Linked DNA regions of Homo sapiens: all the other regions are linked to region 1. The links come from fine-mapping of genetic effects on gene expression. A gene starts in region 1. Each other region holds a variant in brackets. All regions are shown on one strand. Distances are from middle to middle. Region 1 holds the start of PUS7L (pseudouridine synthase 7 like). Region 2 overlaps PUS7L (pseudouridine synthase 7 like). Region 3 overlaps IRAK4 (interleukin 1 receptor associated kinase 4). Region 4 has its middle 61 kb from the start of PUS7L.

Region 1 (8,584 bases):
CCCGAAATCTTACTGTTACCACCACATTCGGATTACCAGCACTGCAATTCATTTTAGAAAAAGATTTGGTTTCCACAAGGTTTCCAAACTTTTTGTTGACAAAATGGTGGACAGCTTTTCTGTGGTCTTTGTTTGTATCAGGTTTAAAGGTAAATTTGGAATTTTCTTTCTTTGCATCCAAATATTTAAAAAAGTCAAATGCTTCCTCTTCAGATACCAAATGACAAAGTTCTTTATATTCAAGATTTGGTTTTACAACAATTTCACTGTTTTTTCCTACAGTTACTAAAAATGGAAATTTCTGCCTAATGGCACTGTGTAAACTAGCCCTCTGGTTTTTGTCAAGGATTCTGCCTATTGAGAATTCAGGAGGTAGTCCAATTAGCTCTGTTTTAGAAAGCCACTTCTCTCTTACATCACAGGCAAAATTATTCAGTAACTCATGAGTTTTTTCATCCAAAAAGGAGCTTAAAACATCAGCTTTTTCTTCACATTTGGAAGTTCCATCAACGATAGTATCTTCCTTTTCTGAACCAGACTGATGATTTTGGTCACCATCAGTGTACTTAATCAAAGTATGAACTTCTTGGTTTCTTCCATCTTCTAAGGACAGATTTTGAAGATCTAGTTTTGGTTTTTTGGGAAAATTATTTGGCTCAAGTTGTATTTCACTAATCTTGAAAATAGGCTCATCGATGGTCTTATTAACTAACTGTCCCTGTTCATCAATTTCAATAACAATAAAGTCACTTGGTGAGCTTTTTATAGTGCCATGAAATCCAACGTGATCATTAAAGAAACACAAAGAACTAAACCTGATTCTATAATCTGTATCTTCTTCCATTCTTCTATAACAGTGCCTAGAAAACAAAACAAAGAGGTGGTTAGTTAACAGAAAGAGAAGTTATGGATGACCAAATAGGAATAGGTTTGCAGGATTTAGTTAATTCTGTCTCTCTTTTAATTCTGAGTCTTCTTAAATGGTATCATTAACTTAATTTATAACTATATGTACTTCCTGTGTACTTTGACTCTCCTATACCAAGCTGAATTAATAGGCAAACTATTTCTGGTATAGCTAAAGATTTGTTAACTTGTATCTTCACTCACTCCAGATTTGTACCTATTATCCAGGATTAAAATGAGTCAATTTTATCTTAAAAATATCATTTGTAGGCTCACAAGAAGAGGTGAGAACACAGGACTATAAAACAAAGATTTGTCCAAATTCCATTCCTGGAGCCTAAAATTTCCAGCTAATTCCAGAGAACATGTGGCTAAGTTTTCTTATATTATTAGTGGTTAGTGACAGGAGAGGTGACAAAAAGACAATAGGAAAACTGATGGGTAAATGAAGTTCTAAATACAAATTTGTGATTTGATTATATTTCAAGGTAGGATTAAGTCAGTCCTGGGCCTTCTCTAATGCCCCCATTAGGACAAATAGAAGCTTTCAAGGTTGAGCCAGAGGAAAGTTCTAACTATATCATTGGCATCAGACAGAAGAAACCCTTACAGAGCTTCCTGGAAACACTATGCAAGAGAATAGTACTCTGATCTCTCACTTTTCACACAAACCCATGGCTACCATACCATATGGAGCTGCAGGAAAGATAAATTGCCCAGGGGCCCCATACTAGTGAGTTCTGTGTTTCCCCCACATTCTCCAAGTAACTTATCATCATCTGGACCATCATCTCATACCTATAATGTATTCTACTAATCTGAACCAATTTAGCAAATCACACCTTCTCAATCCTTTCCATCATGCCATATAGAAATCACTACAAATTCTCCATATCCTAATTTCCTAAGGAATATATAAGATATACTTACTTTCCTTAATTACTTAATTTCCTGTACAGTTCCCTCACTTTCTTGCCCTAATTGAAATCTGGCTATTTCTTCAGGCTGCTTCTTCTTCAGTCCTCTCAAGTAAAGGCTATTTTTTCTTTCCCACCCATCTACCTTAGGACCTGGAGGCTGTAAATATTGGTCTATGTTTGTCACTGTTCGTTGCAAGCCATTTCTTCCTCTACTACCTCCAAAAACCCCAATTCTTTTGAAGAGCCTGCCATTGGGCTTTACCATCTGCTGTCATCCTCTCTCGGATCCCCAGACAACTCTGCTTCATTCACTGATCTCTGGCTCACTACCTTCTTATCCAACATGATTTTTATGATCATCTATATGGATCATCCATTCAATGTCTTGGACCCTCAAGTCCTCAATCTCAACCTCAACCTCACACCTCTACTTCATCTTGGTCATCCACTGTCACGGTCATAACTTTGACTTTCTCATCTCCAAAAACTGCATTAACCTTAAGCATCTGATTCTTATGACTCCCAATGTCCTTTATCACACCAACTTTAATACTTCCATTCCAAAAACTTTTAGATATTGTGAAGGTCCCTAACTCCTGCTTCTATAACTAGCCCACAAACCAGCCAGAATGGTCTTAAAAGGTAAATTAAATCATATCACAATCCAGTTTAAAACCCTCTAGTCACATTTGCAATAAAATCCAAATTACTCACCCTGGCTTCCAAGGACATCTAAGATTAGGGACCCTGCTTATTCTCCAAACTCATTTGTACCTTTACCCCATTACCCACTATACTCCAGCTACTCTGGCCTTCTTCAATAGTTTTGTGCTAACTGTTCCTGTTGTTTAAATTGTTCCCTCCCCAATCATATAGCTGCATCTTTTAGGATTCATTTCCTCAGAGAAGTTTTTCCTGACCAATAATCTACAGGAACCTGCAAGTGATTCTCTTTTTTTTTGAGACGAAGTCTCACTCTGTCGTCCAGGCTGGAGTGCAGTGGCATGATCTCGGCTCACTGCAACCTCCGCCTCCCGAGTTCGAGCGATTCTCCTACTTCAGCCTCCCGAGTAGCTGGGACCACAGGGGCGCGCCACCACGCCCGGCTAATTCTTGTATTTTTTTAGTAGAGATGGGGTTTCACCATATTGGCCAGGGTGGTCTTGAACTCCTGACCTCGTGATCCACCCGCCTCGGCCTCCCAAAGTGCTGGGGTTACAGGCGTGAGCCACCGTGCCCAGCAAGTGATTCTCTTTCACAAAACCCTATTTAATTTTCTGCATAGCAGTTCTAGGTAAAGTTTTTCTTTATTATTTATTGTATATCTCCTCCAAAGAGAATGTTAGTTCCACGTGAGGAGTAACCTTGTCTGCCTTATTTACTACTGATGATCACACATTTTGAACAGTGTCAAGCACATGGTAGGTCTGCAATAAATACTATTGTTAAATAAATGAAATAACTAGTACAAAATAAGAGCTGTAGGAATGAAGTGGAAGATAATTAGAAGAGGCATAATGCAAGAAGTGGCCATCTAAGTCCTCCATAGTTCAAGAGATAGAAATGAGGCAGAGACCTCACAAGTAATGTACAAACAAAACATGCAATGTGTGCAAGAAAAACAAGCAGTCCAGATACAGAGCAGTGGGGATGGGAATGCAGGGAGACTACAGTGCTGGAAAATGTAGCTGAGTTAGTACCAGATTATGGAAGATGTTGAATGCCCTGACAAGGACTTAGAATCTATTGGGTGGTCAATGGATGGCTACTGTTAGTGTTTGAGTAGAAAAGTGACACAATTCCAAAACATGCTTTTGGAATTGTAAGATGATTCTGATGGAAATGAGCAAGATGTATCCGATGGAGTAACAGTTAGAGGAGTTCAAAAACAAAACAGCATGGTCAAGAACATAGCTGTAGGGATTGGCCCTGAAAGAATAATGATCTTTTCTTTCTCCCAGAAAAAAGGAGGAAGACAGACATTCTAAGCAAGTGAAACAGGTAGGGAAACTTGGGGAGAATGTAATTCCAGCATCCTGGTAGAAGAGTGGAACTGACCTGGAGGACAGCAAAGGAGCCCACGTGGCGTTAAGCCTGAAGGTGCAGTATTCCCATTCAACAGAGACTGCTGCTGACAGTGGGCGGGGGAGTAGTTTGCTTGGCCCGTGGTTGAGGAATTCGTTGGCGGAGGAGGGATCCTGAGAAGGTACTAGAAATACTGAACCCAGTCCTGCAGAAGCTACTTAACTTCACAGAAAACTAGGGCGTCGTTGCCCTCCAGCACGTCCAAAGGTGTCCCCGACAAGGCCAGCAGCTCTACCTGTTTCTTCTCCCTCCTCTTACTCTGCCTGTCCAAAGGCACGACACTAGTCCACGTCACCTTTCTTTGGGCGCAAAGGGTATGGATCCTCAATGCCAACCTCGTCACCCCCCCCCCCCACACACACACACACACACACACATACAAGCCCACCATCGCGCAAGAAACTCGACCCCGTCTACCTCGGTTCAGTGGAAGGCATTCATTTGCACAACGCTGTGCGCATGCCCGGAAGCCTTAAGTGTTTCAGCCTCCGACAGGGGCGTAATTAAAGGGGCAGGCGCCCACGTAAAGACGCGCCCTACGCAATACGTGGAGTTTCTCACTTTGTGGAGCCGCCTGGAGGCGCCAAGATGAAGCCCATCGGGGAAGTGGGGCGGGGCCAACCCGGCAGGCCCCGCCCCTTCGCGGCGCTTCCTAGTTCGGCTGGTTCTTCTGTCGCCGGCTTCAGCAGCCCGCGCCCGGGCAGGTAAGGCATTCCCCGCCTTAATGCCTCGGTCAAACGTCGTCCGAGGTCCGCTTCCAGGCCTCGGCACCTCTGCCCCAGGGTTGCTGGGGTCGGCTGCGGAACGGAAATCTCTTTATCATCCGTGAGAAAAGTTAGAGAGGAAGTGGGTTCCTTTGACAGAGCTTACTCCAGAAGAAAGACTTGGGTAGGTCCCCGGTAATCAAGAAGTTCGTCGGCCCTGAGGAAGAGCCTGAGGCTTGGAGGGACGTCACCCAGCTGTTCTGGGGCGCAGTCGGACCTCAAGTTTCTCACCTCTCAGGCCCTGGATTCCGTGAACCCGACTGCGAAATGAAGTCTCTTTTCCCCAGAACCAGGAAGTCAGGCCAGCACCTGACAGATGCCTGTGGCGCCAGCAGCTCGCTGAGCCTCCACACGATTGTAATTCGCTTGTTTCTCCGGCCTCCAAGCTTCCAGGGAATTAGAAAGTGGAGGCGGCTTATGGGATCAGATGAGTACATTCGCAGATGGGGGAAAAAAGTGTACCTGTCAGCTTGGAAGCCAGAGGGAGACAAAGGGATAAAAGCAAACCCTGTCCAGGTGCGGTGGCTCATGCTTGTAATCCCAGCACTTTGGGAGGCCCAGGCGGGCGGATCGCTTGAGGTCAGGAGTTCGAGACCAGCCTGGCCAACATGGTGAAACCCCTGTCTCTACTAAGATACAAAATTTAGCTGGCATAGTGGCGGGCGCCCGTAATGCCAGCTACTCCGGGGGCTGAGGCAGGAGAATCGCTTGAACCCAGGAGGCAGAGGTTGCAGTGAGCCGAGATCGTGCCACTACACTCCAGCCTGGGCAACAGAGGGAGACTCCGTCTCAAAAGAAAAAAAAAAAAAAAAAAGCAAACCCTGAGAAAGCGAGAAAGCACTTTGAGCATTTAGAATGGGAACAAACGGCGCTATTAGTGCTTCAAAAACGTAACTGCCCAAGGCCCCTGGTAAGCAGAGGATACTAAAATCTGCCTTTTCCCTTTCTTGGAGTGGTCCTTGAAGAGGGCTATCGGGAAGTTCAAATTTCTTCTGTTTTCCTGCAGAGCGTTCATTTGAAGTTTGCTTTCTACCTCTCCAAACTGAGCTTCTGATATTCCAGGCCAAACTTGCTCCTTCCTCAGCCTTCTCTATCTCAGTAAATATCGGTAAACTTGGTTATGCTGTCTTCTCACTCTCCACATCAGCCCATAGCTTTCTATTGGCTCCACCTCAGAATCCTAGGACTTCTGCACTTGCTCTGCTACGACCCTGGTCCCAGCCTGCAGCACGTCCCACCTGGCTTATTGGTAGGCTCTCCTAAATGCTTCTTTCTTGCTTCTCTGTCCTTACTCCAACATCCTTTATTCCCAGCAGCCCCAGTATCCTTCTAAGACATGAGTACAGAGCATGTCTCTTTTCTCAAAACTTCCAGCATCTACATCTCACCCAGAGGATAAACAAAGTCAATACAAAAACTCTAAGGCCCTTGAAGACCTGGCCCCTTTACCTTTCTGACCTCATCTGCTACTTGCCTGTTCCCTCCTCTGCAGTCTCACCATGTCCTTGCTGTTGCCCAGTGGGCCCAGTTCCAACCTTTGCATTTACATTTCGTTTTGTCCACAAACTTTTCCCACAGATAGTCCAGTGGCTGGCTTTCTCCTTCTTTTTGACCTTTAATCAAATGGCACCTTCTTATTGAGGCTTCCTGTGACTACCATATTTATAATTACAACCTTTTCTCTATTTCGTTTTGTTCTTTCATTTCACTTGGCACCATCTAACATACTATAGAGTTTATTTATTTGCTTATTGCCTTCCTTCCTCCATTAGAATATAAACTCCATGAATTCAGGTTTTGGTTTTGTTTTGTTTTTTTTCTCTAATTTTCCTAATGCTTCATCTCCAGGGGCCTGGAGCAGTATCTAGCACAAAGTAGACACTCAGTAAATATTTGGTGAGTCAATGGTATTATATTTTGTTTTTTAAATATATGCAAAGCATTTTCAATTACTTACTGTTGTGTTGGATCAATGTTCAAGAAAGATATGTTAAGTTTAATTTATGGTACACCAGCACATATCCCAGTTTGTAATAGGCAGCCCTATCTAATTTAATAGCTCTGGAAGCCCTCACCAGCTTTTGTTCATAATGATGATGTTAAAGTATCTAAAAATAAAGATTAATGGTTATACAGCATATTTTGCTAAGAATATATGGAAGTAAATAGTGTATTTTAGAAAGGATATAAATACATTAAAATTACCATGGTTGATCAAATAAGACAGCCACCATCTCAAAAGCTTAGCTATTTTCTCAGACTTGTTATTTGTACGCTTTCAGTAGATCCTCACTACTGTTCTGGAAATTGAACCTAAATACAGTCTGCACATATCTTTAAAAATAATGTGATATAAGAATAATTTCTGCCAGGAAATAATAATTGCTCCTTTTTTTTTTTGACCACCTATTATTATGTGACAAGATTTGGCCCTTTGCATGTGTTGATTTTAATTCTTACAGCAATTCTTAGGTATTACTATCTCTGTTTTTCAGATAAAGAAAAGCAAGGTGCAGAGAAATGTATTTACTAGCTCTGGTCACAGTTGGCTTTGGTTAGAACTTAGGCCTGTGCAACCTCAAAGTTCATCTTCCCTCCACCCCTGCACAATCTTTTCCTCTGATCAAAGTGCTAATGAAGCAGTCTTAAAACTTTATTAACACATTTGACAAGAATCTTTTGCCCTCCTGTTTTGGGCACAGTACTTTGGGAAGGCATTGGATTCCATAAGCAGGTGCTTATTTTAATATATTTCTCAATCACCACCCCACCTTTTACACTTGTCTGAATTGTCTTACTTGAAAATATGAATGGGTTTTCTTTACTATGAGAGTTAGTGGTATGAGGAAACAGTCATGAAGGTATTTACTTATTTGTAAGCAACATATCCTGTTCCACCTGTGTTAATCCTAAGTGTACTAAAGTAAATCTTGAAGAATTTGAAAGAGATGACACTTTTTAAGTTTTTTTTTGCCCAGTCTGTTTTCATTATTGAAAATTCAGAAAAGCAAAATGAAAACAAAACTATCATAAAAGTCATCACCAAGGGATAACCACGTTAATATTTTGGCTTATGTTCTTGTAAGTATGTGGTTGGGAGTGGTATATGAATATACATTTAAAGTAAAATTTTAATTTCTGGGATTTTGAACTTCTGGGCACATGTGTGGAGGAGTTGCAGAAGGCCTTCTTTTTCCTAGTATCCCTACACTTATCACCTCTGCTGGAAGCCTGGGTGCAGGAGAGCTACCAAATTTATCCCTGGCCTTTAGATAGTCTGGGTTTTTTCCTCAATTCCTTGTATTTTGCTCTAATTTATAAGACTACTAAGCAGTTCTATCTTGTCTAGCTTTGTCAATCATGTTGTACCTTACAGTAGAGAGAAATCTTAGTAAGGAAAAATAACTTGAAGAGAGCAACTGCAGAGTCTATAGGCAACCTAGATACAATTTCTTAATTAAAGTTAAAAAGTCATCAGCCTTTCATTCAACACAAATGTTGTGAGTCGTTGCTGAGGTGAATTTGGTTGGGTCCTAGCTCAGGAGAGCACCCATCTAACAGAGAAAGCAAACACATAAACAGTAAAACATAATAATTATTATAACAGAAGAATGACTAGGTGACATTTTGGAGCAAAAGAGATGACAATCAGGGGAAGCTAACAGTGCCTTTTGAATTGGGCTTGAAGGAATAATAGGCATTTACCAGGTGGCCTTTAAGGTATGTGGGCTATTCTTTTACCTGGCCCTAGATGACTTCATTTCCTGTTTCACAGAAAAAATAACAGTATGTGGGAACTCTTCTCCCTTCAAATATATCTGTATTTAAACCTCTGCTTCCTTCTTTCTAGATTCAAAAGAGGTTTCTCTCTATTCAAGGCTGATTTCTTCACCCTATATGCTATTCATT
Region 2 (8,584 bases), 23 kb before region 1:
ATCAGTTCCTATGCTGAATATACATAAACCCAAACAAGATCTTATCATAATTTGTTTCTGGAGGAGTAGACTACATAAAAATTAGAATGATTCTTCCTGCTTTAACCACTAATCACTGAATTTGGATAACATGGAGAAAGGTGGGCTGCTGAAAACTCTGAGGCAATACTTTCACCTCAATCACCAGCAATCTTTTTCTAAATCACAAAGTTTTTCTTTATTAGGCTGAATTGAAAATCTGCTTCTATAATATCAACCCACTACCCACCCCCACTAATCTCTGTCCCCCGAAAATATAATAATCTATACAGAACTGATTTTTCTCTGACTGGATGTGGTAGCTCACATCTGTAATTCAGTGCTTTGGGAGGATCGCTTGAGGCCAGCAGTTTGAGACCAGCATGGACAACATAGGGAAATCCTGTCTATATAAAAAAAAATTTTTTTTTATTAGCCAGGTGTGGTGGCACATGCCTGTAGTGCTAGCTACATAGGAGACCCAGGCAAGAGGATCGCTTGATCCCAGGAGCTAAAGACTGCAGTGAAACATGATGGTGCCACTGCACTCCAGCCTGGGTGACAGAGCAAGACTCTGTCTTTAAAATAAAATTGAAAAAAAAAAAATTTAAAGAGGTGGTATTTCTCAGCATTTGTTTCATAGAATGGTAACAGGTGTCACATACAAGAGGAAAAAAAGGTGCATGACAGATTAACTCTATGAAATGTGGCTCTAGGATATCACAGAATAAGCAGTTCTGCTTTCTCTTATACATGAAAGCTCAAACAGAAAGGCAGCTATTCTCTCTTCACAAGGCTTCAGCGCATTCTCATATTCCTAAAGCATTCATCACACGGTACAGTGTCTAGAGCCCCTCTAAATCTACCTGATTTCCCCTCAACTCTCCCTAGTCTTATCAATAATGTTGCTCCTTTTTGTTTTTAATTTAGGGTTTGTTTTTTTGTTTATTGGTAACTAACCTCTTTCAGTTACTGCACTCAGAAACAGAAACAAAGCTCCAGATGTGATCTGATCAAAATACAAGAGACAGACTACATGGAATTATGATCTCTCTTGCATCACCATTTCTAGCCTTTTTTCTTTCACAGAGTCATAAGTATACCTACATACTGTGATTTAAGTAATTTATGAAAACATCGAATAAACATGGTCAGGTATAAAACACCATGCTTTGTCTTTAAAGAATTCCCTCCAGGTTGATATCCAGCAATTCATGAACAAACATGCTTTCCTTGTATGGCTGCTCCCCAACTATAAATTCACCTAAGTTTTTAATTGTCTAACTCACATTTCTCCATCTTGCCCACACACACACACACAAAGAAAAGTTACCAAGTGATTTGAAAATGTAGATACACCTGTTAGTCTAGTAACTCTATCAAAAGAAGGAATCAGATTAGTTTTCTATAATTTTTAATTGTAGATGCATATTACATGCCCCATATACCATTTATTAAGAATTTTATTCTTTTTCCTTTTCATATTTTATATTTTGGGCCTCTAAGTCCTGCCTTTTCTTTCCTCAGTGCTAACTAATAAAATAAGTGATCGATCTTAAAATATATATAAACATTGTTTTTGCTGCTCATAAAAGGAAATTCTGCAAAATATGTAGGAGAAAATGTTTTCTCTTCTCCTATAGCTCCAAAAAGAAAGCAGCTAAAATTCCAATCACAAAACTATCCTTGTAAATGTTATTCTGAATGAAGAAGTCTTATAAAACTCATGCATTTCAAAAATTGTTGTATCTTGTGAAAGTAATCTTTAACTTCCAAAAATCTGAATTAGAAATGGATGACTTACTAATTAGTGTGCTTTCCAATATTTAATTGGACATGTTTTCTGGGAGGTGTTAAGAAATGATAACGATTTTTTATTATTTATCAAAAGGGGATCATTGACATATCTCTTCTCCCCCACATGAGGTAAAATAAAACTTAAATGCTACTAGATTTCTTTTCACACAGTTTGAGTCTGTATCTCAATTAAATTACCATTCTTAGTAACATATGCTGCCTCCTAGTGATCATTTTCTTATCATTTCTTTCCTATTAGGTTGGAGCACAAGTAATTGCAGTTTTTGCATATTCATCCATTTAATGAAAAAGTGAAGCCGACATCTGATGTTCTGGCTTATGCAATCTTTACTCCCTCTTTTCAAGTAGCGGCACTCTCATTTTCCAGGGGACCTCTCCCAGGTGTCAGATGTGGATTAGGGTCCCAGGAAGGAGCCCCAGGAATGCAGGTTTAGTCAATCACATACTGCAGTTCACACTTTCTGGTTTGGTTCTGTACATATGATCCAGGCCAGGCCATTCCTAGCCACTGAGACTCAATTACACAGCTTTTGTTGACACTGTTGGGAAAGAAAAATCATTTTTCTGCAGAGAAGCAAGTCTAGAGTGGTGAGAAATAAGCCTAGAGTCGTTAATAATAATCTTGCCACCAAAGGTGTAAGCTAGACTGGGAATGGATCTAACAGAGAAAAGCAGAGCTGAATGATGAAAAAAAGGAGATCGTTTAGGACACTTAAGTCCCAAATACAGCTGCGCCTGAATCAATCATGGGCTTTCAGTTATGAGGACCAATAAATTCCCATGTTTCTTTAAATTACTGTGGGTTTGAGGTGGGTTTCTATTACTTAAAACCAAAAAACCTTAATTAATACATCAAGAATTCTGACATTAATTTAGATAAAGTTTGCTTTATGTAGAGTTCAGAGTCTGTTTTACCTCTATTTTTGAAAAACCGGACCATGTTCTAGTTCTCACTACAGACTACTTCTCTATACTCCATGATTTTTCTAGTAGAGACCCAACAGGGCTAGGAGTTAGGCAGCCGGGTCTTTTTAATTCCACTACTTGTGTGACTCTGAATCTGTCTACTCTCCAATCTGGGACCCAATTTTCATTTCTATAAAATGGGAATTAAAAAAGAGTGTCTCTAAAATCCTTTTGTTCTCTAAAATTCAATGATTTTACTGTTACATACGAAAGTGTTACTCAAATTTTCACTAATTTTTAAAATTTATGAGACTGACTTATGATAAAGTTGGAGAATAATAATTTGTTCTTTTTGCATTACAGCACTATCAAATGAATTTCCTTGCATGATTTATGGAACCCAGTTTCATTAGTTCAAACTCACAGAGATAAAAACAACTGGATGGCCGGGTGCGGAGGCTCACGCCTGTAATCTCAGCACTTTGGGAGGCCGAGGCGGGTGGATCACGAGGTCAGGAGATCGAGACCATCCTGGCTAACATGGTGAAACCCAGTCTCTACTAAAAATAAAAAAAAAATTAGCCAGGCGTGGTGGCAGGCATCTGTAGTCCCAGCTACTTGGGAGGCTGAGGCAGGAGAATGGCGTGAACCCGGGAGGCAGAGCTTGCAGTGAGCCGAGATCGCGCCACTGCACTCCAGCCTGGGCGACAGAGCGAGACTCTGTCTCAAAAAAATAAAAAAATAAAAAATAAAAATAAATAAATAAATAAAAATAAAAAATAAAACTGGACAAGGAGGAAATGGAAGGACCAAGCTTTATAATATAAACTATATTATAACTTCACTAATATAAATGTCTCTAAGACATTGTTAAGAGGAAATTATGAATCATATTTAGATAAAATCACATTTCTATAAAAGAAATACACACATTACATTGTTCCATATACCATTATAAAAATCATATTCCTTCTCCTCTCCATATTTTAAGTTTTGAGTCTCTAAGTCCTACCTTTTCTTTTCTCGGTGTTAACTAATAGAATAAAAATAGATTTTCAATGGATATTTATGTGAAAACATACAGAAAGGTCTAGAAAGACACATAACAAACAACAGAGGTTGAGTCTCTGGAGGAAGCACAGGGAATCACATTAGGATGCTAGCAGGGATGGCAGCCTCATCTGTAATGTTTTTATTTTTGTTTTTAGGCACAGTCTCGTTCTGTTACCCTGCCTGGAGCGCC[A/G]TGGCACGATCTCGGCTCACTGTGACCTCCGCCTCCCAGGTTCAAGAGATTCTCCTGCCTCAGCCTCCTGAGTAGCTGGGATTACAGGCGTGCGCTACCACACCTGGCTAATTTTTGTATTTTAGTAGAGATGGGGCTTCACCATGTTGGTCAGGCTGGTCTCAAACTCCTGACCTCGTGATCCGCCCACCTCAGCTTCCCAAAGTGCTGGGATTACAGGTGTGAGCCACCACGCCTGGCCTTGATTTTTATTTTTATGGGCTGTTTTGTGCATTATTTGTGTAATCTTTTTTAAAATGGGTTTTTTAAAGGAAGCTTTACTACCTATATATCTTTCACTCCATACCACTATTTTTATCTTTCCATTTACCAACATGTGTTAAGCCTAAACTGACAGCAGACTTGAAGCAGGAGATGAGTAAATATAAGTACAAATAGATAAATAAATTACATGTATGTTTAAAGTGTTTCTATAATCAGGGCTTTTGAAAAATTCATGTTCTGGTATAGTAACTACTCTTGGAAAACTCTGATGGAATGATACTTACTTTACTATTTGGGAAATTCTCGTCATCAATGTCTTCATCCAAACAGACCAAATCACCCTGCACTACTCTTGCTCCATAGGTTTCAAGTCTGTAAGATACTGCCTCATTCCAAATTTTGCTGGTATATGCGTGAACATAGAATATGCGCATGGAATGGGGTAAAGAGAACCATGCCTGGATACAACCTTCCTCGGTCATGCCAAAGCGGTGCAATGCCTCCAACAATGCTCTCTCACGCACTTTGAATTCAGGCATCAATGAAAGTGTGCCTTTAGCATCCTCTGAAACAAAGGGTAAATCAGGTATAGTTAGCCACTTTTATTTAAAGGCCAGTTATAAAGGCTTTTGTTCTAATCTCAAACTGAGGCAATGAACATGGGTATTAAGATGATATTCAACACTTTCAGTTAAACCTAGCTACACTTGAAGAGCTTTAAAAAAAATAATAAGCATAATATGGCCCTACTTTCACTTTCCCTGCTATTAAAAAAAAAAAAAGCCAAGAATCCAACATTAGTAACAGCTTACTAAAGTCCCTTACTTCAGAATAGAGATAATCTAATGAAGTTATTCACAGGACTGTTAAAACAAAATCAAACAAACAAACAAAAAACCTAAAGGATTAAATAATTTAATTGCTGAGCTAGCAGAGGCTTGAGTTTTTTAAAGAGCTATTCTGGACATAAACACAGAATTTTTTTACTAAGAAAGGGTTGAGATCTGGAGCCTTCAGGCACACTATTATGCCTCACAAATGCACTTTGAAATGTAGATGACTGGAATCTACCACAAAGATGCTTATTCACGTATGGCCTTGGAATTGGCATTGAAATAGATGTACCAGGTGTTTCTTATGCATATGAATGTTTAAGAATCATTGCCATAAGGAAATTATCATCTCGGGACTCTATAACAGACATAAACAAGTCACTTTGAATTTTCCTTATTATTACTTAAATTACTCATAAGAGTTAGAAGTGTCCACACTGTTTACACATTGTGGTATGGCACAAAAATACTACTTTCCTGCGAATAGCTGCACATATGTAATATGTACATAATTAAAAATAATAAATAAATATTTGAAAACTGACATCCTTTATTTCAATATAAGTGAAATTCAGTATGTCGGTCAGATATCTGAATGAATCTGAAATGGTGTGCTTGCTGTTTTTATTATTTAAATAAAGGTAATATTTATAATATTATAAATAATATTATTTAAATAAAGGTAATATTTATCTCTGTGTAGTACACGCAAGGCATTATTCCAAGGGCATATCTAAATCTCATAATACTCTTTTAGGTACTGTGATTTGCTTCAATTTACAGATAAGGAAACTAACACAATGATGTCAAATCACTTGCACAAAATCATACAGTTGGGAAGTATTAAAGTTGAGAGTTAACCCCATGCAGTCTGACTCAAGCCATACTCATAACCACTTTTCCTTAGTGGTTTTCATCAAGCATTCTATATGTATTCCATCATACTGACCTAACGTTTTAAAAATTGACAGGGCTAATTGGCAGCTAGAATGAGAATAATGTGTAAAGTTTGGAATATCATAAATGAACTTTTATTTATTTGTGTTTGTATCTCCCCCAGCTGCAATTAATTATTGTCATCAGTGCCAGATTCGAATTTGGAACTCTCTCTCAGAGGATTTCAGCCAAGAAAAACTAAGAAACTATTTCTCCCATTGCCCCTACCCCTAGACAAGACTTAGCATAGACAAAAAAACTTCCAAATCTGACCAAAAACGAAGTGAGTGCCTAAGTCATGTAATAAAAGTGTTCAGTATGTAATATACTATAATTTATTTCTTATCACATTTATGTTACAATAAATGCTCTCCTGCTGATAAAACATTTATAGTGTGTATCTGTATCTGCATGGTTATGTACAGGATAAAGAAACGTAAATACCAGTTTGAAGAAAATACTTCTTTGCTCTATTTACAGGATCATCCAAGTCTTCTGGTGTAAGAAACAATTTTATGGCTTTCATCTTAAAAAATCAAGCAGGTAAACATGTGTTAATGAAAATGTCAAATTACTTTCTTTAAAAAAAGATGCAAATTCTCTAGCATCCTAAAAGAATAGGGATTTAATAATTATACTTGATGCTGCAATTTTCTCTTTAGGCTTGCAAAAATTAAACAGACAATGTTAAATGTAGAAATAAGCCTTCTGCATGAAATAATTTTATATATAGGTTTAAAATATTATGGACTGAAAAAAGTATTTCCCTATCACTTCCATAATTCTACTTTTGTCATTTTTTTTAAATATTAAAGTTAAAATGTATTGACATTCTTAGTAAGGTGTAAGAATTCTGAAAAGCTTAGGCTAAATGTATTAAACCCTTATTTTTAAACTGTTTCCAAAAGCAAAAAAATTAGCAAGTATTATAAATAGTAAAACTTTTTTGCAGTCATTTCAGGTTCTTAACAACCCACCAGAAGAAGCACCAAGAAAACCTAGCATATTTCCTAAGACAGTGAAAACTGAGCCCCTTCTGGCCTAAAAATAAATATTAAATAGTTCTTTAATATTTAAATAGATGTGTTTGAAAATATTTAATATTTAAATGGCTGGAGTAGAAGTAAAATTAAACCAATGTTTGTATTGTTACAGAAGAAAAAAGAAAAAAAAATAGGGCAAATGAAAAAGGAAGACAATGTCCAGATCAAAGAGTTAAATATGGACACAAGAAATGCAAGCAGCTGTAAAGTGAAAGATCAAGAACCACTCTGAGGGCTCAGAAGTAGAAACTAGTGAACTCCAAAAGCAACCCTCAAAGAAAAACAAAAAAGCAAGAAAGATTTTAAGTATCCAACTTACCTGAGTCAAAAAAGGGAAGAAGAAAAGAAGTAGCTCTGAAGATGTAGAATGCCTCGCTCCCAGAGCAAAAGTAAAGAAAATCACTCAGAAAGACAACATTAAAAAAAGAAGCCTCAGAAGTTTCCAAAGAAAACACAGCTATAACTTTCAGGTTAGGATTAAATGAATTAAAGTTATGTTTCACCCATTTCACAGCCACAAATATCTTTTTTGTTTGTTTTTTTGAGACGGAGTCTCGCTCTGTCACCCAAGCTGGAGTGCAGTGGCGCGATCTTGGCTCACTGCAACCTCTGCCTCCCGGGTTCAACCTATTCTCTTGCCTCAGCCTCCTGAGTAGCTGGGACTACAGGCGCCCACCACCACGCCCGGCTGATTTTTGTATTTTTAGTAGAGACAGTCTTTACCATATTGGCCAGGCTGGTCTCGAACTCCTGACGTTATGATCCTCCTGCCTCAGCACAAATAACTGGCTTTTTTATTTCTCAAGACTTAGAAGTCCTTGAAGAACAAAAGGATGCTGGAAATATAAAAGATGGTTCTCCCTTAAAACTAAAAAGGATTCATAAGACAAAAGATAAAGAGAGACATAAAATTGGAGAAGAGGTTATATTGAGAGTACTATCAAAGTAAGTACACAGTATAAATTCTATTGTCATTGGCAATTGACAGACAACCTAGAGTTCTGTCATCCTTTATCTCTATTATTGAGCCAAGAACACAAGGGTAAAATAATGGCATACATTTCAGACTGGACCAACACACATGACAAAAATAGGAAAGTAGCAAGCAGAGGGGAATGGCAAGCCCTTAATTTCATTTGTGCCCTCAATTTCCTAAATTCTTTGGACTTAAAAATAATTGCCAAAATCTTAATGAAAAAGTTGCCAAATTTAATATTTTAAATCCTAAATGATTAAAAGATGTTCCTTTTTTAAAAAATAATATCTACTAGTTTATGTATTTTATCACTGTCTTTAGCACTGGGATTTATTTCTAAAGCACGTGTCTTAGAGTAGGAAAGGATCTTAAATAGGTCATTTGACCCAATTTCCCACTCAATTTTCTTTTACAGCATTCATTTATTCAAACAAATATTATTAGGTATCTGCCACATGCTAGGTACTGCATAGGGTATTAGGGACAGAGCATTGAGTAAAAGAGTCATGGTCTCTGTTCAACTAAAACTTTCTGCCTACTGACAAAA
Region 3 (5,749 bases), 22 kb after region 1:
GTTAAGACTATACTAGGAAGATGCTTTTATATATTTTTATCTTCAAATAACAAATGTAAACACCCATTTGAGCTTATTTAGATATTATTTTTAATAACTTAAAAATGTAGTCCTAAATTATTAATGCTATAACATCATCTTCAGTTGTTGCCTAGAAAAATATTCTGTGTTATATATTCTCTGTAGATTTTTTATTATTCTTTCTCATTTTTAATTTGGTTTATTTCTTTATAAGGATGGTACTCCACCACTTTCTTGGCACATGAGATGCAAGATTGCTCAGGGTGCAGCTAATGGCATCAATTTTCTACATGAAAATCATCATATTCATAGAGATATTAAAAGGTAAATGCTACTGTTTAAAAGTTTTTGGAAAGCTGTCTTTAAAGAATAATTTGCTGTCACTCTATTCACGATTCATATGCAGGTCTTAACCTAGAGCATCTGGACTTTTTTCCCATCACTCCATGAAAGCTCTTCTCAATAAGGACATCTATAATCTCCTTTATTCCAAGCCCAGTGACCTACTTCCAGTACTCATCCTACTTGACCTTTTTTGTTTGTTTTAATAGTAGTTTATTCTGTTCTTCTTGACACTTTTGCCTTATGGAAATTAGTTGTTTTCTTAGTTTATGGATCACTATTCTTTTCTGAATCACCTTCATCCTCCATGAGTACTTTTCAGTTCTCTTTCTTTCTTGTGTATTTATCTAGTTAAATATTTACCTACTATAAGTAACATATTCATATATAGAGCTCAACATCAATCAAATAAGCACAAAATAATTATAGAATGTTAATATGTACAGTTCACATATATATTATATGTATTATTATTATATAGTATAGTACATAGGATTAATATAAAGAAGGGTTTCCAAGAAAGTGACATTTAAGCAGAGATTCAAAGAATGGGCAGGAAATAAGTAGACACAATTTGAGGGTAACTGTAGAATGGATGATGGGGAGAAGAACATTCTAGGCAGAAGGAACTGCATTTGTAAGACCAGTGGTGAGACAGAATATGGGAGCATGATGAGTTACAAGAAATGAAATATGCTTTGGGAGCCAAGATAGGAGGATCATTTGAGGCCAGGAGTAGCAGACCTGACTATGTTCCCTGAACAACATAGCAAGACCTCATCTCTACAAAAAAACTAGTCAAACGTGGTATTGCATGCCTACAGTTCCAGACACTAGGGCAGCTGAGGAGGGAGGAGGCTTGAGCCCAGGAGTTCAAGGTTGAAGTGAGCTATGATCGTGCCAGTGCTCCCCAGCCTGGGTAATAAAGTAAGACTCTGTCTAAAAAAAAATGAAGTAAATGCAGTATGACTGAGATGCAGAAAGTTATAGGGTGGTGGATTGGAGATAAAACTACAGAGAAGTGTAGGAAGCTAAGTCCTATAGGACTTAATAGATCAAGGTAAGGCTTTTAGTTTTATCACAAGTGTAATGAGATGCCGTTGAAAATTTTAAGTAGGAATATGGCATCATATTTAAGTTTTGCAAAGATGATTTTAACTCTAGTGTAGAGAACAGTTTGTAAGAAGAGGCAGTTAGTAGGCTATCATAGGTGGCAGTTCATAAGAAGAGAGGGGAGCAGATTAGAAAGATTAAAATGGCAAAACTTGTTGATACCTTGGCTATGCAGGGGTTCAGGAAGAGCGAAGTATCAGGAATGACTCCTGGAATAATGGCATCCAGACTTGCATTCTGGAATGATTATGGCATGATTCACTTATGTAGAAAGGACTGAAAAAAGACTTGGTTAGGTTGGGGTTAGAGAGATGGTTAGAAAATGTGAATTCTCTTTTGTACATGTTGTGTTTGGGGTGCTTTTAAGATGTAGTAGTAGAGATGGTAGACAGTGTGATATACAGATTTGGAGCTGGAGGTCTGAGCTGAAGATATAAATGTGTATTACTTGCATACAGGTGATAATTGAAGTGACTGTATTCACTTGAGGGGAGATGTAGATTAAGAAAAGGTCACAAGATTAAGTCTTGGGGAACCCTAAGACTTAATGGCCAAATAGAAGAGATGATCACAAAAAGGAATCTAAGGAAGTACACATACAGAGAAGGGTAAGATGAAAACCTGGAGAGTGTGGAGTCCCTGAAAACGAGGAAAGAAAGTGTTTCCCAAGAGGGAGTAGTCAAAAAGAGTCAAGGGCTTTAATCATTGGATTAGCATCACCATGGTCTTTGGTGACTTTATGGAAACCCATTTCCAGGTAGTAGTTGGTTTAGAAATCACATTGTAGTTGAGAGAGTGAGAGCTAGAGAACTGAGATAGGAGTATAGACAAGTCTTTTAAGACATTTTACTAGTGAAGGGGACAGCTAGAAATAGATAAGTCATTCAGGAAACTTTTTTTAAGCTGGCAGAGATTAAGCTGTGCTTATGTGCCTATAGGAAGGATCCAGATTAAAAGGGAGAGGATAGTATGGAAGAGAGAAATGAGATGATGTGTTCAGTAGGGTTACTGAGAATGTAGAAAGCAGCTCAAGCAGAGGAACTGACCCTAGATGAGAAAAGAAACGCCATCTCCTATCCTTCATGGATTGGTACTTTCTTGTGTTCTTATATCATTGTCTCTTTTCTCCCTGTATGTTCTTTTTTTTTTTTTTTTTGAGACAAGTTTCACTCTTGTTGCCCAGGCTGGAGTGCGATGGCGCGGTCTTGGCTCACTGCAACCGTCGCCTCCCGGGTTCAAGAGATTCTCGAGCCTCAGCCTCCTGAGTAGCTTGGATTACAGGCATCCACCACCACGCTCTGCTAATTTTGTATTTTTAGTAGAGATGGGGTTTCTCCATGTTGATCAGGTTGGTCTTGAACTCCCGACCTCAGGTGATCCGCCCGCCTTGGCCTCCCAAAGTGCTGGGATTACAGGCATTAGCCACCCGCCTGGCCTCTCTCTGTATGTTTTTGCTGAGTGATATTATGTTAATTTTAACTGCTACTTATATGTGAGTGTCTTTTGAATCTGTATTATTAGCTTCCAATCCTGGATTTTTAGTATCCCCGTACCAAAAACACTTCATCTGGGTATCCCACAGTAGCCTTTAAGTCAGAACATTAGAAATCAAACTCATCAGCTCTTCCCAACCTAAAGTCTTCCCACATTTCCTTTCTGATCCAGTGAAGTCACTGTTCATTCTGTCTCTCAAACTGAACACGTTCTCATTCTCTATATCATGCTAATTACAAAATTCTGTTGTGTGAGCCTCAAAATTTTCACTTTCCATTTATCCCATGTTATGACCATTTAAACCCTCATTATCTCCCATTTGCTTTGTTACAAACCTTCGTAGTCAACCTAAATCCAGCCTATCAGTTCTCATCTATTCACTACCACACTACTAGGTCATGGTCCTAAAAGTTAAGTCTAATAACATCAGTTTCCTACTGTGAAAACTTTAGCTGGTATCCTGTTGCTCACAGGATAAAATGCAAATTATCTCCATGTTTCTTGGACACTCGTTCCTTGAAGTTGACCATGTATACCATATCATGTTTTTGTCACTTTGTACCTGTTACTCCATTTGCCTGGAGTGCCTTTCTTTCCCTCATATAAC[T/C]ATTAACTTCTAATAATCCTTCAATACTAAGCACACTTTTCACCCTCTGTTTGAAATTTTTCCTACTTTTTCCAGGCACATGGTTGTTCTCTCAGCATTTTGTACCTAATATTACCATTGTTTTAAAAAATTATTTATGCCTTTGTCACAGACAAGATTTTAAGACTCCGCCATGCCCAGCAGTGAGCTTAAATACTACACAACATAGGGAGTTCTCAATAAGATTGTGTTGAATTAAAGTATGAAAGCACATAATGAATTAATTGAGATATTTTGGCCATATTTTTTTCTCTTCAAAAGCCAGATAGTACAGAACAAAAGAATAAAGAAATTCATAATTGAGATACTTTGGTTGGAAATTTGTTTTGAAATGAATTGATACATACTAAGAAAGGAATTAATAAAGGTGCCTTGGAAGACTTTGTAGTAATTTACCCTATAATAAATGATTTGTGGAATAATGAAAATATCTCTTACTAATGTAGACAGTTTTATTTCATTTTTATTCTCCTAAATGTTTTCCTCAAGAAACATAAAAAAAGAGGACAGTTGCTTCTCTTTAGCTATAATCTGAATTCTAGGTTTATTTCTATAAACTTTAGGCTTTTATGATGCATACTATAAAACGTTACACTCTGTAAATATGTATGTACATATGCATGTATGCATATACATATATACATGCATACATACGTACATCTAGCTAAGGAACTGTTTGACTTTTTTGGGGTGGGAAAAACATTTTTTTCTTCAAACTTTACATTTTTTTCAGTGCAAATATCTTACTGGATGAAGCTTTTACTGCTAAAATATCTGACTTTGGCCTTGCACGGGCTTCTGAGAAGTTTGCCCAGACAGTCATGACTAGCAGAATTGTGGGAACAACAGCTTATATGGCACCAGAAGCTTTGCGTGGAGAAATAACACCCAAATCTGATATTTACAGCTTTGGTGTGGTAAGTTCCGTATACATAATTATTAAAAATAATCATTCTGCTATAATTGTGAAAATGAAGAGAATATTATTTAATACACCCATCTTGTTTATCTCTCTTATGTAACAATATAAGTTTTTCACATTAACCTCTACTTATACCAGAAAGTTTATAAAAACTTCTTCCAATGTGTAAAACTTTTGAGTTGATTTTTGAAATGACTACAAGAAATGATTTTCTTGCCATCTGTCTTTATGAATTAGCATGACACCTAATGCATTAAATGAATCATGTCATACAGTATATACTTTAGTCTCACATTTTTTGACATTTACTAATCTACCTCTCTATTCCCAATAACTTTTAAGATAGAGCAAGAGATAGGTGTGGGTGGTTGAAGAAGCCGGGGGCTTTTTCTTCATTTTATTTTTTCATACGTGTTTCATATATGGAAATTTAACTTCATAGCACTGAAAATAAGGCATAGGGCTATAGAATATGCCTAATGTTTAGAAAATAATATTCTCCTAAGAGCCAGAGTAAATTATTCTTGTGAAGAATCCCCAAGAGGCAGGAAAAGGATTGGGAGTCCTTAGAACATATGTTGAGTGGGGCTGACTCTTTAGTAAGTTGCCAATAGAAAAGAGCTGCTTATGGTCATGTTGGGGTCCAAGATGTCCCTGAAGGAGGGATGGTGAGAAATGCCCAAAGCTCATGTTCTTTCCACTTTAATATCTAAAAGACATAGCTTTGTATAGAATGATTAATCAAATTTTGTAAGCAAGATTCATATTCATTCTAGTTTTTGTCTTGAGTATTATATATATAATTTATTAATATCATGTATAATATATATATTTTTTAGAGAGACAAGGTCTCACTCAGTCACCCAGACTGAAGTGCAGTGGTGGAATTATGGCTCGCTGTAGCCTCAACCTCCCAGGTTCTAGTGATCCTCTCACTTCAGCCTCCCAAGTAGCTGGGACTACAGGTGTGTGCCACCACACCCAGCCAATGTTTTTTTAAAATTTTTTGTAGAGACAGGGTCTCACTGTTGCCCAGGCTGGTCGTGAAGTCCGGGGCTCAAGTTATCCTCCCACATCTGTCTCCCAAAGTGCTGGGATTACAGGCGTTAGCCACTGTGCCCAGCCTATCTTGTGTATTATATTAATGATTTTTTTTGTCTTCATAGGTTTTACTAGAAATAATAACTGGACTTCCAGCTGTGGATGAACAC
Region 4 (8,584 bases), 61 kb before region 1:
AGGGAACTTTATCCTGGGATAGTGTTAGAAGACCTCTTAGAAGAGAAAAAACATTTATAATAATGATTGGAATTGGCCGGGCGCGGTGGCTCACGCCTGTAATCCCAGCACTTTGGGAGGCCGAGATGCGTGGATCACAAGGTCAGGAGACCGAGACCATCCTGGCTAACACGGTGAAACCCTGTCTCTACTAAAAATACAAAAAATAAGCCGGTAGTTGTGGCGGGCGCCTGTAGCCCCAGCTACTCGGGAGGCTGAGGCAGGAGAATGGCGTGAACCCGGGAGGCGGAGCTTGCAGTGAGCCGAGATCGCGCCACTGCACTACAGCCTGGGCGACGGAGCGAGAATCCGTCTCAAAAAAAAAAAAAAATAGAATGGTTGGAATTGGCTAATAAGAATGATGAATAAAAATAGAAGAACAGGAAAACAATGAGGCAAAAAAAAGCATAGATATTAAGATTACTTAGTCCCATTTATGTTAAAGAAAAAGCTCAAAAATAAACTTTAATAAAATTATAAATACTGCTTTCATTAAGCTATATAATAATTATTAGTATTTATTTCTATTGAATATAGTAAATAATTATTCAATTCCAACATTAGACCTTAGGTCCTAAAATTGTCTTTATTTACTATTTGAAGGATATTTTGAAACAAATGATTCTGGGATACACCAACCAGAAACCAAAAAATCAATAAAAGAAAATGTAAACCACAATAAATAAACCATAATTTTTAATAAAGTATTTTATATTTAGACAAAAATAACACTATTAGTAAATAATCTTATTTTAGAATATTACTTCCTGCTTTTAATGCTTATTTCAGATTTAAAGTTTAACAAAATTATATTCAGTTTCAAAAAGACTTGTGTTTCTTGGCCTTGAAAGAAATTATAAAAAGAAAGTTTTAATCTTAAGACTTTTTTATACTATTAAAAAAACTGTTAAGCCTTACTACAAAATAGTCTTACAAAGTATAAAAACTGCATTGTATAATCTGTATTTATTTTGTGGGAATTTTGAAAAGTCAAAAGTCAAACTGGGCCAGGTGCGGTGACCCACCCCCATAATCCCAGCACTTAGGGAGGCCGAGGTGGGCAGATCACCTGAGGTCAGGAGTTCGAGACCAGCCTGGCCCACATGGTGAAACCCCATCTTTACCAAAAACACAAAAGTCAGCCGGACATAGTGGCGGGCGCCTGTAATCCCAGTACTCAGGAGGCTAAGGCAGGAGAATCAACTGAACCTGGAAGGCAGAGGTTGCAGCGAGCCGAGATTGCACCACTGCACTGCAGCCTGGGGGACAGAGTGTGACTCTGCCTCAAAAAAAAAAAAAAAAAGTCAAACTGGAAATACAAATATAAAATACCATTAAAAAAAATAGGAATCTGTCTCTATGTTAAAATTAAGTTTACCAAAACTTTAAGGTGCTTTTAGGCAGCAAACGTCTGGAATAAATTCCTGCTCACTTTATCTCTCTGCACCCTTCTTCTTTGCTCTTTTGGCTCCTGTCCAAAATGTGAGCTGTGAATATTATCTCTGTGTACTACAAGAGTGAGAAATATTGTTCAAGATGGTCTCTGGGCATCTTTTGATTTAGACCTTACTATATTATGACCAACATATTTTTTCCACTAAAACATTTCTTATGAAAATGCATACAATATAGGGCAGGAATAATACATATCACTATTAAAACCATGATTAACATTCATGATCAGCTTAGCTATGTATTTTCCTGGCAGGACTTACTTCCCTAGAGGACTTATTTATGGGAATGGGAAGTTAGAGAAGACCCTGTCATGACTTATGTATTAGTTCGGATACTTAAGTAACAAGCAACAGAAACCAAACCTGGCTAACTTAAGTAAAAGAAAACATGATATGAGCATCATAGGACCTAAGAGAGAGCTGAAGAAAAGGGATGGGAAAAGTGAAACCAGATAACCCCCAAAGGTCTTTCTAATTCCACATGACCACCACTGCTCAGATATGAACCTGAATTTTCATCACGTCAAGAATACAGATAATGAAGCAGAGTTAACATAAAAAGAGCAAAAGCAAGGTACCATTAGGAAAAAAAAAAACAAGATTTGAGTAGCAAATAATAATAATAAACAGCCACAATAGAGAGTCTTTATGGAAGGTTCTCAAAGGCAGCAGACCTGGCTAACTCCTTAGTTACTATTTGAGCAATGGTGAAAATGACTGAATATAAAATATACTAACCAGAAACCAAAATTTAATAAAAACTGTATGCCAAATAAAGACAATAGTATTTTTAAAAATTACAACAGTATTTTTTTTAATTAATGGATAGACCAAAAAAAAAAAAATACTATTGGATAAGAGCACAGACTCTTGTGCCAGCTTCATTTTGCAACCCTGAAAGAGCTACTGAATCTCAAATGATTTATGTAACTTTTTGTACCAAAAATGTTGTTTTCATCCTGCCAGACAAGGCAATATTCCTGAGATGAGTGGTATATGTCACACTTAAAAATTGCTCTACAAACTTGGGGTACAACCCAAACTTGGGGTCACTTCTTTTTTATTTTCCCAATTGATTGCTTAAGCACGTGCCTGCCATTTTAGTAGTAAGTTCAACATTTTTCTTTGAGCTCCACCTTTCCCCTGAATTTTCCAAAATCCCTGGCTTTACCCAGTAGAAGAGAGGTTCATTCTGCCTTTTGCACTCAAGCAGAAAGGCAGCTGGTTCCACAGTTGCTTCTTTCTGCTACATGGTGTTGCTGTTGACAGCTGGTCCTATAGCCTGGCAGATAGTGAATATCTAGCGGTAACACACACCCCTGCTTAGGCTGTGCAGGTCATGAGGAAGGATGAGCTGATTCATCAGGGGTTAAACTCCGCTGAAATTGCCCGATACTTGGTTCCCAGGGTCTCATAGGACTGTTTCCATTCTCTACCACATTAAGTACTTAAAGACACAGAATCACTCTTTCTTCCCTCCCTAAAGATCTGGGAGTGTTTTTCTTTGAAATCCCCCAGATCCAAATGTTCTGATTACATCCTTTTCCCTCTGATAAGGGGGCTTCTCAAATATTTTCCTAAGGAGCAATACCCTCAGTGTCTCCTGGGCATTACCCGCTCCCACCCTCCTTTTGCACACACTTCTGAAGGACAGCATTCAGTGTCTTCAAGGTGATTCATTGGCCTAAAGAAATTCCCCAGATAATGAAGATAATAACTTACAATTTCTCTATTGAGTCCATATTGTCTTTGAAATCAGTATAGGCACAATTAGTTTGTTTTATATGTAATGCCACACAATCCTCATCCGTGAGTACCCATGCTAATTAAGTTGTGTGAACTTTTCAGTCACTTCTTGTTGCATGCAGAAAATAATCCATGGGTTATAAAACCCAATGTGATTTGGCTTTCTGAATCTTATCTCATACTGTGTAACCCCTTGCCCCACTAACATTAGCCTTTTTCTTCCTTGAATGTGCCAAGCTCACATCCTGCTAATTGCCTTGAACTTGATGTTCCCTCTGAAGACTTTCCCATGGCTGGTTCTAACTCTTCACTTCCCTTTTCTTGTTTTTAACTTTTAATTTTTGTCAGTACATACTAGGCATATATACATATGGGGTACATGAGATGTTTTGATACAGGCATGCAGTGTGTAGCAATTACATCATGCAAAATGGGGT[A/G]TCCATCTCCTCAAGCATTTATCCTTTGTGTTATAAATAATACAACTATACTCTTTTAATCATTTTAAGTGTGCAATTAAATTATTGTTGACTAGAGTCACCCTGTTGTGCTAGCAAACACTAGGTCTTATTCATCCTTTCTAGATATTTTTTGTACCCACTAACCATCCCGGCTTCCCTCTCAACCCCAACTACCCTTCCCAGCCTCTGATAAACATCCTTATACTCTGTCTCCATGACTTCAATTGCTTTGATTTTTAGATCCTACAATGCATAAGAACATGTTATGTTTGTCTTTCTGTGCCTGGCTTATTTCACTTAGCATAATTACCTGCAGTTCTATCCATGTTGTTGCAAATGATAGGATGTCTTTTTTTTCAATGGCTAAATAGTACTCCATTGTGTACATGTACCACATTTTCTTTATCCATTTATCTGTTGATGGACACTTAGGTTGCCTCCAAATCTTGGCTAGTGTGAACACTGCTGCAACAAACATGGGAGTGCACATATCTCTTTGATATACGGATTCCCCTTTCTTTTGGATACATACCCAGCAGTGGGATAGATGGATCATATGATAACTCTATTTTTAGTTTTTTGAGGAACCTCCAAACTGTTCTCCACGGTGTTTGTACTAATTTACATTTCCACCAACAGTGTATGAGGGTTCCCTTTTCTCCATATCCTCATCAGCATTTGTTATTGCTTGCCTTTTGAATAAAAGCCATTTTAACTGGGGTGAGATGATATCTCACTGTAGTTTGATTTGCATTTTTCTGATGATCAGTGACATTGAGCACCTTTTTATATGCCTGTTTGACATTTGTATGTCTTCTTTTAAGAAATGTCTATTCAGATATTTTGCTCATTTTTTAATCAGATTATTAGATTTTTGCCTGTAAGTTGTTTGAACTCCTTATATATTCTGTTTATTAATCCCTTGTCATATGGGTAGTTCACAAATATTTTCCCTCATTCTGTGGGTTGTCTCTTCACTTTGTTGATTGTTTCCTTTGCTGTGCAGAAGCTTTTTAACTTGGTGTGATCCCATTTATCCATTTTTGCTTTAGTTGCCTATGCTGGAATTTTTGCCCAGACCAATGTCCTGGAGAGTTTATCCAATGTTTTCTTATAGTAGTTTCATAGTTTGAGGTCTGAGATTTCAGTCTAATCCATTTGATTTGATTTTTGTATATGGTGAAAGATAGGGGTTTAGTTTCATTCTTCTGCATGTAAATATCCAGTTATTCCAGCACCATTTATTAAAGAGACTGTCTTTTCCCCAGTGTATATTCTTGGTACTTTTGTCAAAAATGAGTTCACTGTAGATATGTGGATATGTTTCTGGGTTCTCTATTCTGTTTCATTGGATTATGTATCTATTTTTATGCCAGTACCGTGCTGTTTTGGTTACTATAGCTCTGTAGTAAAATTTCAAGTCAGGTAATATGATTCCTCCAGTTTTGTTCTTTTTGCTTAGGATAGCTTTGGCTATTCTTGGTCTGTTGTGGTTCCATATAAATTTTTGGAATTTTTTTCTGTTTCTGTAAAGAATGTCATTGGTATTTTGATAAGGATTACATTGAATCTGTGGAGTGCTTTGGGTAGTAGGAACATTTTAACAATATTGATTCTTCCGATCCATGAACATGGAATATTTTTTCCATTTTTTGGTGCCCTCTTCAATTTCTTTCATCAGTCTTTTATAGTTTTGTAACAGATCTTTCACTTCTTTGGTTAACTCCAAGGTATTTAATTTTATTTGTGGCTACTGTAAATGGCATTACTTTATATTTTCTTCTCTGATTGTTCACTATTGGCATATAGAAATGCTACTGAGGGGGTTCTGTCTCTCAGCTTTGGAGCCCCCCTCCCTCTGTCTCTCTACAGGGGAGCTTCTTCTTTTTTTCTTCCCCCTTCTTTCTTGCCTATTATACTCCCTGCTCCTTAAAACTGCTCCTCCTGTGCCTGTGTCGTTTTTTCTAATTCAACTCGAGATGAAGATCCTGGCATTCCTCCACTCATCAGAGCCATATCTTTTGGTGCATTGGTTCGGAATCTGAGGTACAGCCTTCATCGGAGTGGTGAGTATGGGAGCAAGCTTAAAATCTGTTCTATCATTCCGAAGTGCTCTTTGCCTCTATATTTAAATAAATCCAATAAATCAGTGGGCATTGGTCAGCCTAGTACATATGCTTAGCGTTGGCTGCTGTACTTAAGTCATGGATGTGAGGCTTGCTGGGGAGAACGTGGAGAACCCCCATTACCCATGGGTATTGGGAATGTTGGCCATGTTTGAACTAGTTTCTTTTCATGGGGAACCTTGCCATTGCACGAGGCTGGGAAAAGTTCAGAGGCAACTGAGAATTTCTGGCCAGGGCACACCCTGGTGTGATTCAAAGGCCTCTGGACCAGACACAGCCTCTGACAGCCCATCCTGGGTTTTGGCAGAGAACCTCAACTGTCCTGTCCCATAACTCTTCTTCCTTCTCTATCCGCAGCCTCTTACTGTTTCTCTGTGTGAAATGTGCAAGGATTTTTACAGTCTGGGAATAGAGTTTTCCCGTTTTCCCCTACAGTAAGTTTACTTGCTACCATTTCTCTGGCAAGCACATAGCATTTCTAAGCCAACAACATCACCTCATGGAAGTAAATAAGAATCTAGGCTCTTCTGGGAACAGGAGGTTTCTGCCTTTAGCAGTTAGGAGTAAAATGTCTTCCATAGCCAAATTTTAGTCTTAATATTGTCCCACTGGCAGGGAAACGGCTATTTGGTTCCTAAGTTCCTTTAAGGAATCAATTTTGTCTCCTATTAAGAGAGTACTTAATTAGTAAGGGATTTTAAGTCCGGAAGTTAACCGGAACCATTTTTTAATGGGTAAATGCTTTAGCATGGCCTATAATAGCAGGATATAGAATTCAGTCTAGCGCGCCCTCTCCCTTAAAGGGGTCTTGCCCAATTACGTGGCTTTTCTTGAAATTCATTGTTTTGAAAGGCACAAGGCAACACAACTCTAGAAGGTCAAAGGGAAATAAAAGGCAGAGAACTGATTGCTTGGGGACAGCACGACTAAGGTCCAAACTCAGTTCCTCTGGTGCCATGGCTTGGAGGGTCACACCTGCAGTCATGGGCGGCACATTTAAACGGGTGCTGGGAATCCAGGAAAGAAGGAGAGAAAATAGTTGGGGGAACGGATGCCTCCTACTACTTTCTCCTCCATCCTGGATCACATACTGAAAGGAAAGAGACTAAAAGGACGCTTTTCTTCTCACTTCTTTTTCTAGATGGGTAGCAGATCGTCTTCAACATGTACTCCCCTGGAGTGTATTTTGAAGCACTGGGACTCCTTCAATCTTGAAACTTTGAAGAAAAAGTGGCTTATTTTCTTTTGTGGCCATATCGGGCAGGCCCAGGGAAAATAGTTGCTCAAAATTAAAAAAGGGAACTTTCAGGGAAATCATCTGAGGGTCCCCCTTATTTGGGGCCCCTTCATGTTCTCTTCTCATTGCAGGACATTAGGCAAGTAGAGGGAGACTTGGGTCATTTTTCTGATGACCCTGATAGGTGTATAGAAGCTTTCCAAAATTTAACTCAGGTATTTGACCTCTCACGCAGGAATGTTATGCTGCTCCTAAGCCAAACCCTAACTACGGTTAAAACAGGCAGCTCTGACAGCAGGAGAAAATTTTGGTCATGAGCAATATGCCTCCTGTAGTAGGCCAAAAGGGAAAAGAGAAAATAGGGAAGGCAAAGAAATAGGAGAAACACCATTCCCAATAGGAAAAGAGGCAATAACTCTTAAAAACCCTAATTGGAACTCCTTTTTGTGGTGTTTTTCCTTCTTTCATGGGTTAAAATGGTTTTTATCTCTTTTATAATGCTCTTCCAACCTGGGAGAAGTTAAGTTTCCAAACCTTAAAAATGCTTGGCTTAGAGTTGAGCTGGGGGAAGGGAACCCAGAAGCCTGACATGCTGGCAAAAGGGTAAAAATTTCTTACCATTAGGGCTTTTGGCTTCTCTTTACCTGTGCAAACTGGTAAAAGGGATAAGATTAGAAACCAGGCCCAGGATCCCATGGGCCTGCTCTTCAAGCCAACTCAGCAAGATGATCAGTAACGAACTTGACCACAGGCCTCCATCTTATTTCATGTCCTTGGGAACATAATCTGTAACCATGTGGCAATACTTTGTTTTAGTCTCAGCCATTTTTCAACAGGAAGTAGCCTCTTCTTGTGCTAAATCAGATAAGCCAGTTTGTCAATCTGGGTGGTGCCAGCTGATCCATCAAGGGCAGGGTTTACAAAATATCTTAAGCACTGATCTTGAGAGCAGTTTAGGGAGGGTCAAAAATCTTGTAGCCTCCAGCTGCATGGCTTCTGGGCCATGGTTTCTAATCTTGTGCCTAGTTCATTGGTCTGGTCCCCAGGAAAAAAGGAAATGTATCTTGGGAAGTGCCTGTTATCATCTTTGTTTTAGACTATGAACTGTAAACCAGGCTCCTCCCAAAGTTGCTTCAGCCTATGCCCAGGATGGGCAAATACAGCTTAGGGGTTGGAAACAAAATGGAATTGTTTGGGTCCAATCTCTTCCACTGTCACAAATTTGCAATGACAGTTTCAAAACCTGCCTATCACACCTTTAAAAATACCTTGTACAATTGTGGTTAAGTCATAACTTAATTAAGCCTTGTTGGTTTCACCTGTGAGGTTATTTTTTGTAAAATTCAAAAGCCAAAAATCTTAACTGCTTGGCGTGGCTAAAGTCAAGTAACAAGGGATTTAAAAGGATTTTCTTAAAGAATGCTTAGCTTAATTAAGAGTGGATATTCATGTTATAGGCATATTTAAAAGGCCTTTATGTTTTTCTCTTCTTGGATCTTGTTTTTCTGGAAAAAGGCTCTTCTC

Evidence for each region.
Region 2: its variant is fine-mapped to the expression of PUS7L in skeletal muscle (FUSION, PIP 0.95).
Region 3: its variant is fine-mapped to the expression of PUS7L in whole blood (TOPMed, PIP 0.99).
Region 4: its variant is fine-mapped to the expression of PUS7L in esophagus mucosa (GTEx, PIP 0.97).

The regions. Positions count from the first base shown.
Region 1 is chr12:43,754,402-43,762,985 of GRCh38, forward strand. It overlaps PUS7L (pseudouridine synthase 7 like), which reads right to left and starts at 4,389. Exons shown (of 9, transcript NM_031292.5): 1 at 4,329-4,389; 2 at 1-860. The coding sequence starts at 844. IRAK4 (interleukin 1 receptor associated kinase 4) reads left to right here and starts at 4,550. Exons shown (of 12, transcript NM_016123.4): 1 at 4,550-4,615. RefSeq lists enhancers at 4,077-4,126, 4,467-4,576, 5,197-5,256.
Region 2 is chr12:43,731,848-43,740,431 of GRCh38, forward strand. It overlaps PUS7L (pseudouridine synthase 7 like), which reads right to left. Exons shown (of 9, transcript NM_031292.5): 6 at 6,463-6,544; 7 at 4,534-4,814. Among named protein-coding and RNA genes, the nearest start is that of PUS7L, 23 kb to the right of the region's middle. The variant A/G (reference allele first, on the strand shown) is at 3,986.
Region 3 is chr12:43,777,958-43,783,706 of GRCh38, forward strand. It overlaps IRAK4 (interleukin 1 receptor associated kinase 4), which reads left to right. Exons shown (of 12, transcript NM_016123.4): 8 at 236-345; 9 at 4,350-4,533; 10 at 5,705-5,749. Among named protein-coding and RNA genes, the nearest start is that of IRAK4, 22 kb to the left of the region's middle. The variant T/C (reference allele first, on the strand shown) is at 3,578.
Region 4 is chr12:43,693,567-43,702,150 of GRCh38, forward strand. No RefSeq gene overlaps it. Among named protein-coding and RNA genes, the nearest start is that of PUS7L, 61 kb to the right of the region's middle. The variant A/G (reference allele first, on the strand shown) is at 3,677.